Regions from separate parts of the Homo sapiens genome. Here region 1 is linked to region 2. The links come from fine-mapping of genetic effects on gene expression. Tissue or cell type: whole blood. Region 2 holds a variant in brackets; the other region holds the start of a gene. All regions are shown on one strand. Distances are between the middles of the regions.

Region 1 (9,515 bases), 36 kb before region 2:
CTTCATTCAGAATCAGCATTTGTGATTCACTGTTATTCCTCCTCTCACCTCTGCCACTGGGCTGTTGGTTCCATAAGGCAGGACATGTAGGAGTTCTTGTTCATTGTTTTACTCCCAGCACAAGCACAGTGCTTGGGACAGATAAGGTGTTCAGCAAATATTTGTTCAACATATAAATACACTAATCCTAATTTCTTATTTCCATCCTTCCTATTTCAAAGTGCTTGGTCATTGACTAACACCCACTCTGCCAGACAGGAAACCATAGGTCTATTTTGGCCAGGAGTTCCTGCAAGGCTAAAAAAAAAAAGAAGAAAAACTACAAGATGAAACAAAAATATGCCAGAATAATCCTGAATAATCTAGAAAAGAACCTGTAATAAACATAAATACGCCTTTTACTAAGAATTATTATAAAATTCCAAGAATGGTAGAAAAAAGAACAAATATGAGTTTATTCTAAATCAACCAGGTTTTTTTCATAAACAAATGCAAATATTTGGGAAGCTTTCTTCTTTATATTCACATATTAATCCTCATATTTCACATTCAGTATGATTAAATATTGATTGTGTACCTGCTATAAACCAGAGACTTTGCTAGCTCTGAAAATAAGTCCCTATATGCAAAGATACTACAAATTCATTATGATTATTATGTAGTGTCGTAAGTGCAGTGAACAGGGGAATTCAAAGAGACCTGTAGGAGCGATTAGAAAGGCCACCTAACTTCACCTGAGAAGGCTTCCTGGAGTTATTATTAGGTGTGAAAAGAGAGAACGATGGCAAAAGAGGGCCCATTGTTAGTCACAGGGGCAGACAGGGAAGAAAGGTGGGTTTAACAAACAGCACATATTGTACCAGAGAACCACTTATTTGAATAGCCGGAAGTGGCGGAAGATGAGGTTGGGGAGGTAGGCAGGAGGCAGATCTAGGATGGCATCGTGTGACTAACTGGGTAACAAATCTAGATTGTATTCTGGAGGCAACCAATAGCCTGTGAAGCCTCACGAGCTGGGAAGTGAACTGGTCACGCTTATCTTCCCACTTGTGATAAGAGACTGTACCTGCCAAGGGAGTGTAATGTAGGAGCTGAGAGCTACAACTCTAAAGCCAGCCAGCTTGGATTTGAGTCTTTGCCCTGAGCTTTGTTAGCCAAGTGACCTTAGGTAAGCTACTTAATCCCTCTGTAAAGAAATAATGATAAAAATCTTCCTCTTCTTTATGGAGTTATAGTAATGATTAAATGAGTGAATATATTCACTGACAATAGTAGAGTACTAGTAACAGATGCCATATAAGTGTTTGCTACTATTATTATTATTATTTGCCAATCAAATGAAAGTACGAAGGACTTCTTTTGACCATATCAAGGGTTTGCAGCAGCACTGTGTCCAAAAGTGAAGGACCTAGGCTTTTCTCTAATGCCATTGTCATTTGCATGGCCTAATGAGTAAGGAATCTTGGTAATGGAAAGGATTACTAAAAGAAAACCTCAGGCTCTCCAGGACCTCAAATAAGAGAATCCCTACATGCAGTTAGTACTTTTCTATAGAAGGAGTTTAAGATTATTTTTGTTAGAAAATCCAGAGGATAAAGTTCTGTTCAGCAAGTTATACCTTTAGTATCTTGTTTTCTCATAGCACATATTAACATTTTTTGAAGTCTGATAGGTATGTTAGTGTTTACTTTTTATAGGGAATATTCCTTAGACAGAGGAATTATTATTATTTTTTTAAATTCTGTGTAACCCAAAGCCTAGCACAGTGCTAGCACATGATGGGCAAATTATAAATATTCATCAAATTGTTCCCAACATTTGAAAGCAAGGACCTTGGATAACACAACTAGCATTTATTTAAAAACTAGTATTTATCAAACTATTAGTTACTAGTTCTAATTATGACACAACTGTATGCCACTTTCTATATGGTATGTAAAATTTAAATGCTATTTTAACTTGAATTGTCTCTTTTTTCTGTTTATTATATTTCCCTTTCTATTAAAAAATTCTGGCTGGGTGCGGTGGCTCACGCCTGTAATCCCAGCACTTTGGGAGGCTGAGGTGGGTGGATCATGAGGTCAAGAGATCAAGACCACCCTGGCCAACATGGTGAAACCCCATCTCTACTAAAAATACAAAAATTAGCTGGGTGTGATGGCACACCACCTGTAGTCCCAGCTACTCAGAAGGCTGAGGCAAGAGAATCGCTTGAACCTGGGAGTCGAAGATTGCAGTGAGCCGAGATTGTGCCACTGCACTCCAGCCTGGCAAGAGAGCGAGACTCCGTCTCAAAAAAAAAAAAATTCTTAGCTATAGCATCTCTGAAAAGCTCACAATCGTTTCCCATGAATGTCCAAGGGTTTTACTGTAATTAGTTTTTAAAAATTTAATTACAGCCTCTAATAAAATATGATTAACAGAAATGATGCATTCAAGTGATTTAGAAAAAGCTGTCAATAAATGACATTTCTGATTATTTAATAGATAAAATCCTGTTGTCCCCCAAAGTGAGAAAGATTAATGCATGTCTGTTAAATGTTTTTTTAATGGCAAATCTACTTGTCCCAAAGTGAACATATTGTAATCTGTACTATTTGTTTTACAGTAAGCTGGGATTGTTCCAAAGTCCACCAAGTGAATACTTTTTTAGTTACAATCAGATTTACTTATATATTTCGAAAAATTCTATAACTTTTGAAATATAGTGAAAAATAGACTTGAATAATAAATAATACAGAAATAAGTAAATTCATTGGCTAGAATTCTTACCAGTGTCTCTCTTCTTCTCACCTTTATATCAGCAACAGCTTTAACTAAATGTCTTTCACATAGCAGGTGTGTCAACTTCTATTTTTAACTTGGATTTTATTTTATTATTAGTAAGATATTTAACCCCATTTTGCTCCCAAGACATGTCTGGTGTCTTGACTTTGTATTATTACATGTAAAAACTATTTGTAAGTTTAGTTTTGCAATACTAAACTTCTAGTATTCCAAACATACAGATGACTCTGAGCATTAAATGAATAAAATATTGACCCACCCAGATATTTTTTCTTTGTTTATTTTGATTTGACTATCACTTCTTTTGAAAACCCTCTTTAACAACACTCCTTTAAATTTGTTTTATTTTATTTCAACCACTCAAATTGCTCTAACTTTAAATTAAAATTAATTTGAAAAATAAGTTTTCTGATTCATCATATTCATGATGGCAACACAACTCAAAATAATCATGGTACTAGCAAAATTTGAGTTGTTGAGCACCTATTCTGTGAGGAGCATGCATCTAAGCACTTTTCATTCATTTTTATCTGAACGAGAACCCTGCAAAGTTTTATTTTTATTGACATTCCTTGTATTAAATCTGTAGTTTCCATATGAAGAAACTGAGGTTCACAGACATCAACTGAGTTGCTCAAAATCATGGAACTAGACCATACTGAAGCCAGGATTGCACCCCTGGTGTGCTTGTTTCGATCTTTGACAACTGTTACTTTTTATAATACTGCTATTCCAATTTTCACATCTGTTCAAGCCCCAATTTTATTTATTTGTTTATTTTTGTCTTTCATATTGTGAATATGGTTGGGAACACAATCAACATATCCTTGAATTAAACTAACAGCCACCGTGGTGCTAGTTTGCTTGGCAATGACTATTCTAAGTAAAACTACCTCTATAAGTGAGTAGAAAAGTGAATGATTATTTCAGTTAAAACAAAATTGCTGCATTTTATTTCTTCATTTTTCCCTATTAGATAAATTAACAATAACTTTATCTAACTGAAATGGTGAAATTATAAATATGATCCAATTTCATCTTGAATTTGAAATAATTTTCTGGGAGTGAGGTAAATTTCACTTGCAATCTTCTAGACCTGATAGACAGAGAAAGAACAAAAAGAAAAGAAGATTTCTTACTTTCCTCTAGTTGTTTCGAAATTTGATTTTTGGTAGTCAGTTCTTTGGCTGGAACTGCTGTCACCCCGGCTGAGGTATGTTTCCCGTGGGGCTCGATTTCCCACGCCTCCAGTGCCTCCAACGCCTCCAATGCCTCCAGTGCCTCCAACTGTGTTTAGAGAAGTTGCTTGTTCATTTGACTTTCTGGCAAAGCTCTGAAGAAATTTCAGTGTAGAATTGGAAAGGACCACTGATTCTGCTCCAGGATTGAACTTGATGCTAGCGTTGGTTGGGAGGGTAAGATTCTGTAACTTGACCACTCCTTCTGCTTTCTCTGTGGATGTGAGAGTTTGATTTCTCACACCCTCAGCAGGTGCACTTGTTTCTGAGGGAGGCAGTGTTGATTTAAGAAGACTGTCTTCAGAAGTTCTTGCCTCTGGAGTTGTAGCTATCTCCGCCGACATGACCCGAGTGGTTGGCAGTATTTGCAAACTTTGTATTTTATTTGGAGGAACTGAAGCAGAAGGCATAGTCTTCTGAGAGTTCCCATCCTCAGGTATAGTCCAAGAATGCTTACTGTTGTTAAGCCCAATGCCCCCACTCCATAAACTAGAAAGAAGGACAAATAATCTTGCCCCCTTCATCTCAGTAGTTTGAAGCAAGGTAGCTCATGTGAAATTTGGGGACAAAATCCTTATGGCCTTTTTGATAGCTGCTTCCACACTGAATCTGCTAAGACTGAGTTTTGCCAGTTTGAGATGTGTAGAGGAAACAGGTTTCTGTGTTTTGTAGCGTACTCAGGAAGTTCGGTTTCCTGTTTCTGTAGGGTTTTTGTGATCTGTGACCTCTAGTGGGATGGCTCTATGGAAGTGCTGAAGGGTCTCTGACAAAGCTAAGGGTAAATGGGAAAGCACAGGCAATTATTATCAGGAAAACCCATGAAAAAATATGAAGTAACTTTCTTTTCCTGAGCACACCCTGGTTTCACGTTTCACTGATTTCAAAGAGAAATTTCAGGTTCACGATAGAGAGTGCAAAATTTTGTTGATATAGGCTGAATACAGTTTTAACATTTTGTTCTACTACATAAAGACACTGAGAAAAGTTTTTATGATACTTATCTGCTGTGCTCTATCCAGAAAGCTGCATTTTGTTCAAGTGTATATCCACATGCATACACATAATCAAAAGCTTGTTTACAGTGTCTCTATCCTTTCATATAGTACATATACTCTGAATTATAAAACATCTATCTACATACATGTATATCTTTCTATTTTTATAAATACACTTCAGCTGTATCATTACTTAATCTCAATGATTATAAGTAATAACAGAAAAGGAAAGCATAAGTAATTGAATTAGACAGGTATACCAGGAAGTCACTTTAAATTTTGCTCCTGGAACTTCTACCAGAGATACCCACTAATGGAATAAATAATCAGAATTTTACTTCCTTTATTTTCCAATCACGATTGTCTGATGGTTGGGGGTAACCAATATTTTACTAGTAAGGGATAGATGAAGAAAAAATGGAGTCACATAAAAATAAATTAAAATGGGATCATATAGAATGCTTTTATACATTTACTGTAGGACAAAATTATGCCAGTTGTAGGTAGCAGAGAACCAGATTTATCTGAGTTTTCTATGGGTTTTTTTCTGGTAGAGATGTTTCATGAGATTTATCATTTAATTTCTCCAGCAAATCTCTGATCCTCAGATTTCAATTAACCTCTTATCTATAAAATTTCATATCAGTCTGTTTAAATAGATATACAAACTAAGTTATAATAGTTCATTCATTCATTCACTCATTCATTTATTTATGTATTCATGAATTCAGTAGTTACATAACCCCTCATTCTGTGCAAAGCACTCTCTTATGTGCTAGGATTATAAGGAAAACAAAAATATTCTTTGCTGTCAATTTGCTAAATGTCTGTTATGTTATTTGGAAGCTAAATCCATGTGTAACCCATTTTTCTGTCAACTTCTGTGCCAGGCATTATGCTCTTGCTAAATATTCAGTCATTGATTGTTAAACTATTATTAGATTTTATTTTTTGTTATTAGATTATTAAGTTCCGTCTTTCAAAATTAGAGAATTGGAAATCTAATGCCTGCTTGGTTATGTTTTATTGTAGATATTTTCTCTAGTCCTTATTCCTGGACACAGTGCACCAGGATTTGAAATAAGGCCTAATTCTTCCTTGAGCTACTAACTACTTGGGATTAATATTTTTTTCTTCCCTCAATCTTTGCCATTTATTTCCGTAAGTGTATTGTTGACCTACTAGAGAGTATTTATTTAAACTAAGACAATCATCAGCAACCCCAATCGACTCTGATATGGAGTAAAAAGCATCCGTTTCTCAGATATACCACAGAACAATCCACAAACCTTGCCTTAGTAAAGGAGCAAAAAGGTCCAGCAGAGACAATCCAGGAAACGATTAGTTACTAAAAAGAGCAAAAGAGCAATGAAACTGCACAACTGTCACAATACAAACATGGTTTTCAGTAGAAAGAAAAAGGCTTTACAGTGTCTTTATCTGGAAAACACAGAAGAAACTAGCTTTGGCTTATGGAAGAGCAGTAATTTCATAAAATTTAGGAAAAATGTTCCTATTTATATTCAATTTTACACCAATTTTCCTAGCTTTAGTAAAAATAGATGAATGGACTGTCTTGAAGATTTACAAAACTGCCAAAATAATGACATTCACTGATTTTTTGTTTTCTTCTACAGTTTGAAAGACTGTTCAAACCTGGTCTGGCAAGTGAACTTTAGTGGTAAAATGTCACCCATTGGATCTATAACTGATAACAAATAGTTATCCAATGATAATAAAAACTGAACAAAGCTAAGCAATTCATTTAACCACTTATAAGGTATTGACCAATAATGACTTTTGCTCACCCCTATCCTAGCTTACAAGGGACCCTGAAATCAAAAGGCTAAAGGTTCTGTATCTCACTATTGATCTACTAAGCCATCTTGCACTTTAACTCCCCAGAGAATCTCAAGCTCATTTAGTGATTTTGGGTATATGGATCAGCCCTTAATTAGAGGTATAAAATACTCCAGAAATTGTCAGAGACCTTGTCTCAAATTCTTCTTTCTGAGACTAATTAATACTCATTAAATAACAATTAAGAAAAATAATATTGCTGAGATGACTGGCTGAAGAGTACTCAGTTTACTCATTCTTCTAGATACTATTATACTAGATACTAGATACTAAAATACTATTGTTGGATTAAACTATATCATCAGTTTTGTATAACTGGACCCTGTCATTTTGCTATACCTCCCATTTCCCACTTGGTTGTTCATATTAAATTATGTTTTACCATCTTGCCATTTGTTCACCATGAATATTTTATAAGATAAAAATCATGAAATTTATTATATTATGAGTTATCAGGAGATTTTTATGTCATTTTTCATTGTATCATAAACATAGGATTCACTATATACTGCAACATGGGTTGTCTGTAGGTGATGAGATAATGGGTTTGGTTCTTTTCCACCTTATAATGCATATGAATTAATTTTCTAACCACAAGAAAAAAAAACAAAAAAAGATTATTAAGTTAAAAGAAAATATAAATGTGAGTTAAAAGAGAATCTTAGATTGAGGAGTTCACTGTAGATGGTGCTGTGTACTATTCAAAGCATTTTTATAGCTGCAAGACTTATTCTTTGTAAAATGTTGGGGGTATGGGCTAACTTCCACCAGATTAATAGGATTTTTCAGCAGCTGTTTTCTTCATTTTTCACATGAGAAATTCCTATTTTCTTAAAATAGTTTAAAACATCCAAAATATGATTTCATTATTACCTTCCTCCATAAGACATATCTGTCAAAAAATAATAGAAGAAAACAAATTTTAGAGCTTTTTCAATTTAATGGTGTTTGAAAAATATTGAAAACCTGTCAAATTTACATGTGGACAAAGGGGGTTATCAACATACAGCAAAAGGGCTGGAGAAGAAGAGAAACTGATTTCTGCATGATTTTGATGAGTCGATGTGCTAGGTAAGTTAAATTTGGCATATTATTTAATTCTTACAAACATGTTAGGTAAGTATTCTATTCTTGTTATACTCATGGGAAGTTAAACTTAAAGAAGTTAAATAACTTCCTAGGGTAACACATTAGTAATTGTTAGAACAGATATTTATGCCCAATCCTGATTCAATAGGTATTCGGTAAATATTTGTTGAATCAGTGAACGAATAGATGAAGCTATGACCATACTCCTATGTATAGTGATAACAAATGGGTTGAAGAGGGCTCTATTTCACATTATTATAGCCACACAAAAGAAAAAAAAAGTAATCTAAATAAATATAATGAACTTGTTCCGGGAACACACCTTCAAAAGTCTTCTGAAATACCCATTCAGTCAGATTGCCTCCTGTAAGTTACTCCTAAAGAAAATTCAGAAAGCCCATTGTTTCTATATTATCTATTCTCAAAATAAATATGAGAAGGTTTATTTTGAAGCCGTCACAGCCACATTAGAATAATAAACCAAAGACTGGGAGTTGTAGAATAAAAGATAATGAAGCAGTAGTGATGCTAGAAAAATTTAAGATAAGCAAATAAATTGGAAGTAAGAAAATTTAGGTTTGAGTGGGCTGGCAGGAAAGGGAAGATGGACAATTAATGAATTATATAATTCTTAATATTAAGTGAGAGAAACATATTAGTTTATCAGGAAAAAAAAACAACATATTTGTCCTAATATTAAAATTTTAACTTTATAAGATCATAAGGAACATACTGATAAAGATGACCAAATGCCCCTCATGAGAAAATGAATGTAAGAATAGTTCACAAAACCATGTCATTGCTGATTTTATATTTCCCATTTACGCAGAACAGTACCCTTGAAGTGAAAGAGTTCAAAACGCATTTCTTTTGATCATTTTAGAAATAACCATATTTTCATTTTCTTAATGGAAAGCTGTATCTGGTTATCAAGTGATTATCATTAGTGACTTCCACTTCTGGAAATATGGAATAGACATATCTCCCTATTCCTTCTGCTAAGTACATCTGAAAATATGGACATTATATATAGAAAAAATAGAATAAGACTCTGAAGAGTGGAGAAAAGAAGGCAGAATGGCTAGGTGACCCAAGGAACAATGAAGCACTGAGTTCCCAAGTTTACTTTTGCCTCATTTCTGGGTACTGGAGAATTTGGCAAACTAGGAACGCCAATGGGCAGAAACAATAAAAGCCCCAATAAAAGCTCTCTTTAGGCCAAGGACTAGAGAATTGTCAGCCTGGAAAGAAGAGAAAGTTTTTAGAAAATAACCACTCTACTCCCACCATAGAGCACAGGGGAAAAAAAAAAAAAAAAGCAAAATAAAAGACAAAAGAACCCACCCTTGCCAGCAAAGCCTGAAGGGAGAATTAAACTTCCACCTCATGAGGTTATAACAAGGTGTCCCAACCCTCATTCTTCTGTTGGGGTAGTCTCAGAGAAGGCCAACAGAGGAGCCAGAAATTTCTTCATCAAGAAGCCTCGCCTGAGTACACTGCCATGGCTCTCCAAAAGCTGAGTGAAAAGAAAAGAATGAAAATCAGT
Region 2 (9,515 bases):
ATGGCTACATGCAGCAGGTAAAGTACATGGCAGGACTATTGAGATATCAAGGAGTCACTGTGTGTCAGGAAATGATAAAGTTCCCCAGCGTCTCCTCACCTGTGTCAGGCCGACTTAGGGAAACCACATTCTACGTTCATAAAGAGTGATCTGCGGGCTTGAAAGGCAAGTAAGCAGAAAGAAGTGTTTATCCCAGCAATTCATGAAAATGTTGAAAAAAAAGAAAAACTAAGTCAGCTTTCCTTAGAACCCAAGTTTCGGCCTGCCTTTTAAAATTTTCTCTATCAAAGCTGCCACCTTTTTTCCAGATGCTCAAGATAAAACACTCAACACAGAAATGCATGATTTTGTTGCTGAGATACCGGTTTGTTGTTTACACTCTGCCCTCCTATCCATTGCACCTTCCAGTTCCGCTTGCTCTCAGTCTTCACCTCTGATTGCTACTTACACAATTTATCCCATGAAACACCATCAGATTATTCCAGCACACACCAGTATCTCTGGGCCTTCCCTGGTGCACTGCACTCTCTCCTTTCCACAGAGCCTGTGGAAAGAGTGGCACAGTAGCTGGAGGGGCACACAGGGTACAGAGCACCTTTCCCCACCCAACTCTTGCGGTGCTGTAGACCTGAGGTGGTACCATGAAGGAAACATGGACAGTTGAGACCACATGCAAGAGCCCAGACACACGGCTCAAGCTCCCAGGGTCAGTGATAGTGTATAGCTAGCTGGGAACCCTGCACTGGCCCTGTGTTCAACATGAGTGGGTCACCCTAAAAGACATTTCAGCGTGGTTCTGCCTACCAAATCTTGCAAAGAAATACCTCTCCACTCAGTGAGAAGTGATCCACTAGCCAGGCTGCCCTCCTAGACCTGAATTAACCATAGAGTCCCAGAATTATTCTATAGGCTTGAGCCCCAGCATTCTGTGGGGCATCTGGTTGACCCCACAGGCAGCAGGGCTAGGAAGTCTGAGAGTAGCATCTCAAAAGGGTGAAGAGGCTGGCCCACAGGGGTCCTGTTCAGGCTGAGAGTGCAGCTCCTGAAAAGCACTGCAAACCCTGAAGTTCCCAGCGTGGGAGGGAGGGCGATTTGGAGAATTGTGAGGAAGGCATTCCAAAGTGCTACGGTGCCCAAGTGAAGACTTACGTCGAGAAGAAATAGAAAAATGACAGCTTTTCCCCAAGTGGTAACAAGAATTAGCTAAACCAAGCCTAATTGTATATTCTTCCCAATTTTAACCCATTTATTAAATCACTGAAGCTCTCCTGAGCAGAATAAGGGGTAGGGAAAGAATTCAGAATAATTCAGGGAAAATGCCTCCTCATGAAAACTCTAAAATTTGGAAAACGGTTGGTTCCTAGTAATCGAGATAGCTATATTTTCCTTCACTTACCAAAATGAAACTTAGGAAGTTCATTCTCTTTTACTCCTAATCTGCAAATACCTTAGTCCAGTGAACAAATGTGAACCGAAAGAGCCAATCTTTCAAAATACAACCTGAGTGGCTAAATGGGGCTATGTTTTAAATAGAGGCAAGTGGCCATTTGCTGACTAAAGATCACACATGTATACTCTGAGTTCCCTGAAAACCTACAGCTCTGCTCAACTTTGGGACTTCCAGAGCTCACCTGATCTACCAATCAGGCCTGGACTGCTTCAACCAATCAGGGCTCAGCTGTATCAAACAATGGGAACTGAGCATTTGCATAAACAAACCTGACTGGAAACTTGGGTGGGAACTTTTGCCATAATAACTGAACCCTCTCTTGGTTCTCTGGATCACACCTTCATTTTACACCAAAAGCTTTGAATCACGGTTTGCAAACTGTTCACTGGAATAAAGTCTCTTTCTTCCAAATTCCTTTTCAGAGAACTTTTGTTCACAGTCCCTATTATCCGAGATAAATCTGTAAGCAATATGTATGTGATGGAAAATGTTTCTTCCTTCCTCCCCAACTTTCAATCCTTGTTCTTTTCTAATCATCTTATAGATAATGTCTAAGAAATTGGCTTATTTAAGTTAAAAGTTTTGACTTCCTTACTACTCATTTGAAAGTACAAAATACCTCAGTTGCACATGCCTACCTACTACGTCAACAGTGTGCTGCTGCATATTAAAAGAGATCCAATTTCAAATCACCTAGAAAAGGCTAAATCTTACTTTTTCTTGCTTTAGATGACCTCTCTCTATATATAAGGCTGATATCAGCCACAAACCTCCCCTTCCTTGTGAGAGGAGGGCAGCCTTCAAACTGAAGTTCAGAGCATTGTTGTACAATATTCCTGAGGTATATTGCTCCCCATAGGATTGGGATCTGTGCCATAGAACCTATAAATGGGATTTACACAAGTTTCTGTTATTGTCCAGGGAATAAATTTTGGACCACAAAAGTGAAATATATAATTCCCAATGCCTTTTAAATGTATAAATATGGACAGCAGCTCAGTGCACTTTTCACTGGATTAACAGCATGCTGCTATATTGCGATACTGCCAAAAAAGACCTTATATTTCAAAGCAGAATACATTAGTCCTAGAAAAGGAGAAGAGCAGCTCTAGGGTATGTCCATGATCCCTCTGTGAATCTATTGTCTGCTTCATTGCCTGAGGCAGAACAAAAGAGCACGTGGCCAAGAATGAGGCTCTGGATCAGCCCAGCTTGGGTCCTCGGCCTCAAACTATGGCCTCAGCGACAGTTTCCTGATTTGCGGAGTAAATACTACTGTGAGTATCCAACACAATTCAGAGGATTGAATGAGGTTAATTAACTTAATTAACAAGTATTAATTAATTAATTAAAAACACTAGGTCACAGCCTGGGCCATAATAAGCTATCAATAAACACTTACTATTGGTGTTAGCAATCTTTACTTTTATTTAAGTGATGTAATTACTCCAATGTACTTTATTTGAGTGATGGAATTATAGATATATATTTATAACTTATATAAGTGTAAGTAGTTACACTTTTGGAATATACTTATACAAGTACTTATATAGGTTATATTAAAGTATATATTTATAACATATTTATAGGATTAATGTAAGAATATTTTTTATAAAATGATCTAACATGCTAAAATATAGAAATTAATTAGTAAAATTATAATTTACTTTAGCTTGTGTTTATTTGACACCAACTACCTGGACATTTAGTCCATTTACTGCAGTACTTCTCCAGGTATGATTCTTGGGCCAGCACCATCAGCATTACCTGGGAAATGAGTTAGAAATGCACATTCTCAGGCCCCACCACAGGCCCATATAAAAACCATGGATTTAGTGTATCTAGAAGGACAAAAATCAAAACACTTAGCTTCATTCAGGAAAAAAATAATTCTGATATTGATAGATACCTCTCTTCACTTTTAAAAGTTTCTTCTTATAGAAACCAGATCTGATTGTATTGTTAAAATTAAACTTGTAAATTTTTTCACAACGAATTTCCTGTATGGTGGTCTATGTTTGGGGAAATACTCATCCCGGAACTCAACTGTACAGGGTTGGGCATGTTTTACATACAAGTGTATGTCTCTCTTCTTGTCTTCCTTCTCCCTTGAACCCTAGTCTCCCTCCCTGCCTTTTCAGAAGTTTCCCCCTGGAGTTCTCAGCCTATTCTCTTTTATCTTTCCATCCAAACGTAGTCACCAATATAGTCCTCTTTTCTCTCTCAATCTACACAGCAGAAGCCTCCACTGCTGCTTTAGAATCCAGAGATATTTCCAATCCCATTATCCCCAAAGATGAAGTCTCTCTTAAAAATCGAGATTCTCTATTTTAGTAGTGGTGGCTCTGTGTTCATGCTGTTCCCTCTGCCTAGAACAGCATTTCTTCATATTTTCACATATTTTTACAGCACATGGCACATAAAAAGCACACAATAAACACCAACATTCTGAGTTAAAAATGTGAAATGTCTTTTCCTGCAAAAATAATATATGCCTGGTGTTTGTCCCAGTTCAATACACATTTATTGACTGCCTAATACTTTGCAGGCATTGAACAAAGCATGGGGTAGAAATAATAACAGTATTTTCTCCCCACACTGAAGTAGTGTGCACTCTACAAATAGGGAAGATATATATATCTTCCTTATATTATATATATTTATATATATAAATATATATTTATATTATTTATATATATATAAACATATATATATAAATAGATTACTTTCACATAATGTCACAGGTGTAGCAATAGGAGAGTACACACAGTGGCTTGTGAATACTGAGGCCAACTTGAGAGATCAGAAAAGGTTTTTAGGAGAAGGTGATGAAGGGCTGAATATATTTTAAAACTGTTAAATGTGTTTTCAAAGGG[C/G]AATAAACACCCATATGTTCCATAAATATTATAAACAGCATGCTTATTCAAGTTAGTTCAGATTATGTTTTCAAAAGCAAAATAGATTTAAGTCACACTTATTCTTTCCTTTAAATAAAATGTTCTTCAAGTTAAAAGTATTATGAAGTATGTCTGGGAACCATTTTCTTGTTGGAGGCCCTTAACATCTTCACATATTCCCAAATCAGAAATTAGCAAACCATTTTGACATCTCCCTCTTCCTCAATTCTCTCATACAAGCATCCCTAAGTCATATCCATTGCATTTCCAATGTTTTTCAAATTATTTTTTCCTTTAACATTTGTATTGTCAGTGCCTTATTTTTGCATCTCCTAATTTCTTTCTAGATAACATCCTAATTTTTTCCCCCAAATCTAGTTTTCATCCCCTCCAAATATCTGCAAGATATCACAGTGCTCTTTAAGCAAAACAAATCGGATCACATTTTTCTCTTATTTAAATCTTTTATTATTATGCTCCTCTAACTAGGATGAATATGCATCCCAGTTTGTCCAAATGTAGATATTCCAGTTTTATACTTGCTGACTAGCATAATTGTCAGGAGTGTCTCCTTTCACTCTCAGAAGTGCCTGTTCTGAATTCAAAATTATATAGTTAGCCTTCTCATTGCCTTCATTATTTTGTTTTAATTCAATAATCTTACATTAAAATCTTCATTTATAATGTGAGTCCTGCCATTAAGAGATGCAAGATTGCTCTTACACCCGGCTTTACCCTTTTACAATTTGAGTTCATCAAAATCATGGATTATGTCTTAAAAACAATTAGTATTTAACACCATGCCTGCCATTGAATAGGCATGTAATGATGTTTATTAAATTTTAAATAGTTATATTTAAAATTGAAGGTTTTGTTATTAATCATATTCTATGTGAAACATCCTTAGATTATTGAAAGCATCCATATGCTTTTCGACATTCTTTTATATATATATTTTTATTATACTTTAAGTTCTAATGTACATGTGCACAATGTGCAGGTTTGTTACATATGTATACATGTGCCATGTTGGTGTGCTGCACCCACTAACTCGTCATTTACATTAGGTAGATCTCCTAATGCTATCCCTCCCCCATCCCCCCACCCCACAACAGGCCCCTGCATGTGATATTCCCCTTCCTGTGTCCAAGTGTTCTCATTGCTCAATTTCCACCTATGAGTGAGAACATGTGGTGTTTGGTATTTTGTCCTTGCGATAGTTTGCTGAGAATGATGGTTTCCAGCTTCATCCATGTCTCTACAAAGGACACGAACTCATCATTTGTTATGGCTGCATAGTATTCCATGGTGTATATGTGCCACATTTTCTTAATCCAGTCTATCATTGTTGAACATTTGGGTTGGTTCCAAGTCTTTGCTATTGTGAATAGTGCCGCAATAAACATACATGTGCATGTGTCTTTATAGCAACATGATTTATATTCCTTTGGGTATATACCCAGTAATGGGATGGCTGGATCAAATGGCATTTCTAGCTCTAGATCCCTGAGGAATTGCCACACTGTCTTCCACAATGGTTGAACTAGTTTACAGTCCCATCAGCAGCATAAGAGTGTTCCTATTTCTCCACATCCTCTCCAGCACCTGTTGTTTCCTGAATTTTTAAGATCACCATTCTAATTGGTGTGAGATAATATCTCGTTGTGGTTTTGATTTGCATTTCTCTGATGGGCAGTGATGATGACCCTTTTTTCATGTGTCTGTTGGCTGCATAAATGTCTTCTTTTGAGAAGTGTCTGTTCATATCCTTTGCCCACTTTTTGATGGGGTTGTTTGTTTTTTTCTTGTAAATTTGTTTGAGTTCTTTGTAGATTCTGGATATTAGCCCTTTGTCAGATGAGTAGATTGCAAAAATTTTCTCCCATTCTGTAGGTTACCTGTTCACTCTGATGGTAGTTTCTTTTGCTGTGCAGAAGCTCTTTAGTTTAATTAGATCCTATTTGTCAATTTTGGCTTTCGTTGCCATTGCTTTTGGTGTTTTAGACATGAAGTCCTTGACCATGCCTATGTCCTGAATGGTGTTGCCTAGGTTTTCTCCTAGGGTTTTTATGGTTTTAGATCTAACATTGAAGTCTTTAATCCATCTTGAATTAATTTTTCTATAAGGTGTAAGGAAGGGATCCAGTTTCAGCTTTCTACATATGGCTAGCCAGTTTTCCCAGCACCATTTGTTAAATAGGGACTCCTTTCCCAATTTCTTGTTTTTGTCAGGTTTGTCAGAGATCAGATCATTGTAGATGTGTGGTATTATCTGAGGGCTCTGTTCTGTTCCATTGGTCTATCTCTCTGTTTTGGTACCAGTACCGTGCCATTTTGGTTACTGTAGCCTTGTAGTTTTGGTGTGGATGTCCTTTCTGTTTGTTAGTTATCCTTTTGACAGTCAGGATCCTCAGCTGCAGGTCTGTTGGAGTTTGCTGGAGGTCCACTCCAGAATCTGTTTGCCTGGGTACCAGCAGAGCCTGCAGAACAGCGAAAATTGCTGAACAGCAAATGTTGCTGTCTGATCGCTCTTCTGGAGGTTTCATCTCAGAGGGGTACCTGGCTGTGCGAGGTGTCAGTCTGCCCCTACTTGGGGGTGCCTCCCAGATAGGCTACTCGGGGGTGAAGGACCAACTTGAGGAGGCAGTCTTTCCATTCTCAGATCCCAAACTCCATGCTGGGAGAACCACTACTCTCTTCAAAGCTCTTCGACAGGGACATTTAAGTCTGCAGAGGTTTCTGCTGCCTTTTGTTTGGCTATGCCCTGCCCCCAGAGGTGGAGTCTACAGAGGCAGGCAGGCCTCCTTGAACTGCGGTGGGCTCCCCCCAGTTTGGGCTTCCTGGCCACTTTGTTTACCTACTCAAGCCTCAGCAATGGCGAGCGCCCTTCCCCCAGCCTCGCTGCCACCTTACAGTTCAATCTCAGACTGCTGTGCTAGCAATGAGCAAGGCTCCGTGGGCATGGGACCCTCTGAGCCAGGCGCAGGATATAATTTCCTGGTGTGCCGCTTGCTAAGACCATTGGAAAAGCGCAGTATTTGGGTGGGAGTGACCCGATTTTTCAGGTGCCGTCTGTCACAGCTTTGCTTGGCTATGAAAGGGAATTCCCTCACCCCTTGCACTTCCTGGGTGAGGCAATGCCTCGCTGTTCTTCGGGTCATGCTCGATGTGCTGCACCCACTGTCCTGCACCCACTGTCCAATAAGCCACAGTGAGATAAACCCAGTACCTCAGTTGGAAATGCAGAAATCACCAGTATTCTGCGTTGCTCACACTGCAAGCTGTAGACTGGAGCTGTTCCTATTCGGCCATCTTGGAACTGCCCTCACTGACTCAACATTATTTTTAACATGTTTATTTACACATTTATAAAATGATCACTGAGTACTTAATACGTAATCTAGTTGAGCAATGTCCTGGTGATGCTTGGATATGAGAAAATGAAAAAACAAACATCTAATTACAGATGCTCCTCAATTTACAGTGATGTTATTTCTCGATTAACCTATCATAAATTAAAAATATTGCAAATCAAAAATACACTTAAACACCTAACTTATCAAACACTATAGCTTAAGCTTTTCCTAACTTAAAATGCTCAGAACACTCACATTAACCTACAAATTTGGACTCCTACATTTGGGTAGGCTAATGTAAGTATTCTGAGCCCTTTAAGGCAGGCTAGGCTAAGCTATGTTTGTGCATGACACAAAGCCCATTTTACAATAAAGTGTTGAATATCTCAGGTAATAGTATTATATCACATATCAATAGCCCAGGAAAAGATCAAAATTTAAAATTTTAAGTACAATTTCTACTAAATGGGCATCACTTTGACACCATTGTAAAGTCAAAAAATCATAAGTTTGGGATCATCTGTAAATGAGGGCACAATTCCCACAAGAAGATTTCAGAATCAGATTCAAGATATTGTGAGGACACAAAAGAGGAAGTTATCAACTCTCAGGGAGTGGAGGGGAAAAAACGGCTTTATGAAAGAAATGACTTTTGGGCAGTCTTGGAAGATAAGCAATTGTAAATAATCAGTAGAACTGCAGTAGGACATAAGACGAGCCATGGATTAGCCTAGACAGGTTACATAGAGGTCAGAGCTCAGAGGAGATTATTGGCCAGTCCTTGTAAACAACGATGAGTGTCTAAAGAGTGTCATGTAAGAGAAAGAGAGAAACAGTATAAAAATTCATAAAAGTCAGCCTGGTAGCAGTGTGACAAGCGTACTTAAAGAAAAAGACACTTGCCCTAGGTCAACAAAGTTTATTTCAGAATAAGAATTATATTAATATATAGGCATCTGAATTCAATAGTATTTTTGCCAAAATCAAGGCATAATATGTAAAAATGTATTCATTTATATCCCACGTTGATTGAAGTCATTTCTTCTAATTTTCAGGTTTTAGCTCTGCCTATGCACGTGGATGAGACCTAGGTCTCAATCAAGGTCTGGCAGTTCAGAAGGTCAAGTCAGACCATCAACCATGGTAGCTACTTCATTGACCAGCCTCACCTAGAATGAGTATAACTGTGAAGCTTTTCAATTTTCTTTATTATTTTAGCCATACTGCTATCATTAGGATATTTGACCTCTCCAAACTTCACGTTGAAATTTGATCCCCAATGTTGAACATGGGGCTTCATGGAAGGTGTTTGGGTAATGGGGGCAGATCCCTCATGAATAGATTAATCCCCTCCTTAGGCATGGTGATGGTAAGCGAATTCTCACTCTATTAGTTACCAAGAGAGCTGGTTGTTAAAAAGGGCTGGGCCTGGTACCTCTCTCCCCTCTCCCTCTTGCTTCCTTTCTCACCATGCAATCTCTGCACATTCCAGCTCCCCTTCACCTTCTGCCATGAGTGGAAGCAGCCTGAGACACTCACCAGATGCAGATGGCCAATTTTAAACTTTTTTCGAAATCAGAATTGTGAGCCAAATAAATATTTTGTCTTTATAAATTATCAGTGTTCTTTACTAGCAACACAAGTGAACTAAGACACATACTGTGTTTGCTTTCTCTTTCCCATCCCTTAATCTGAGTAGAAATTATAACTTTGACAAATTCAATCATTAAATTTACTCCAAAAGGTGGTAAACTAATTCAAAACTTTCTCCTCCCTCACATTAGGCCAGAATTGTATGATATCTCTGGCAAC

The links. PIP is the estimated chance that this variant, and not a neighbour inherited with it, causes the effect. A credible set is the group of variants that fine-mapping cannot tell apart.
Region 1: it holds the start of MMRN1, and the variant in region 2 is the best candidate, but not a certain one, in a credible set for the expression of MMRN1 in whole blood (INTERVAL, PIP 0.85).

The regions. Positions count from the first base shown.
Region 1 is chr4:89,890,006-89,899,520 of GRCh38, reverse strand. It overlaps MMRN1 (multimerin 1), which reads right to left and starts at 4,667. Exons shown (of 8, transcript NM_007351.3): 1 at 3,927-4,667. The coding sequence starts at 4,549. RefSeq lists a silencer at 1,016-1,216.
Region 2 is chr4:89,854,290-89,863,804 of GRCh38, reverse strand. No RefSeq gene overlaps it. Among named protein-coding and RNA genes, the nearest start is that of SNCA, 22 kb to the right of the region's middle. The variant C/G (reference allele first, on the strand shown) is at 4,327.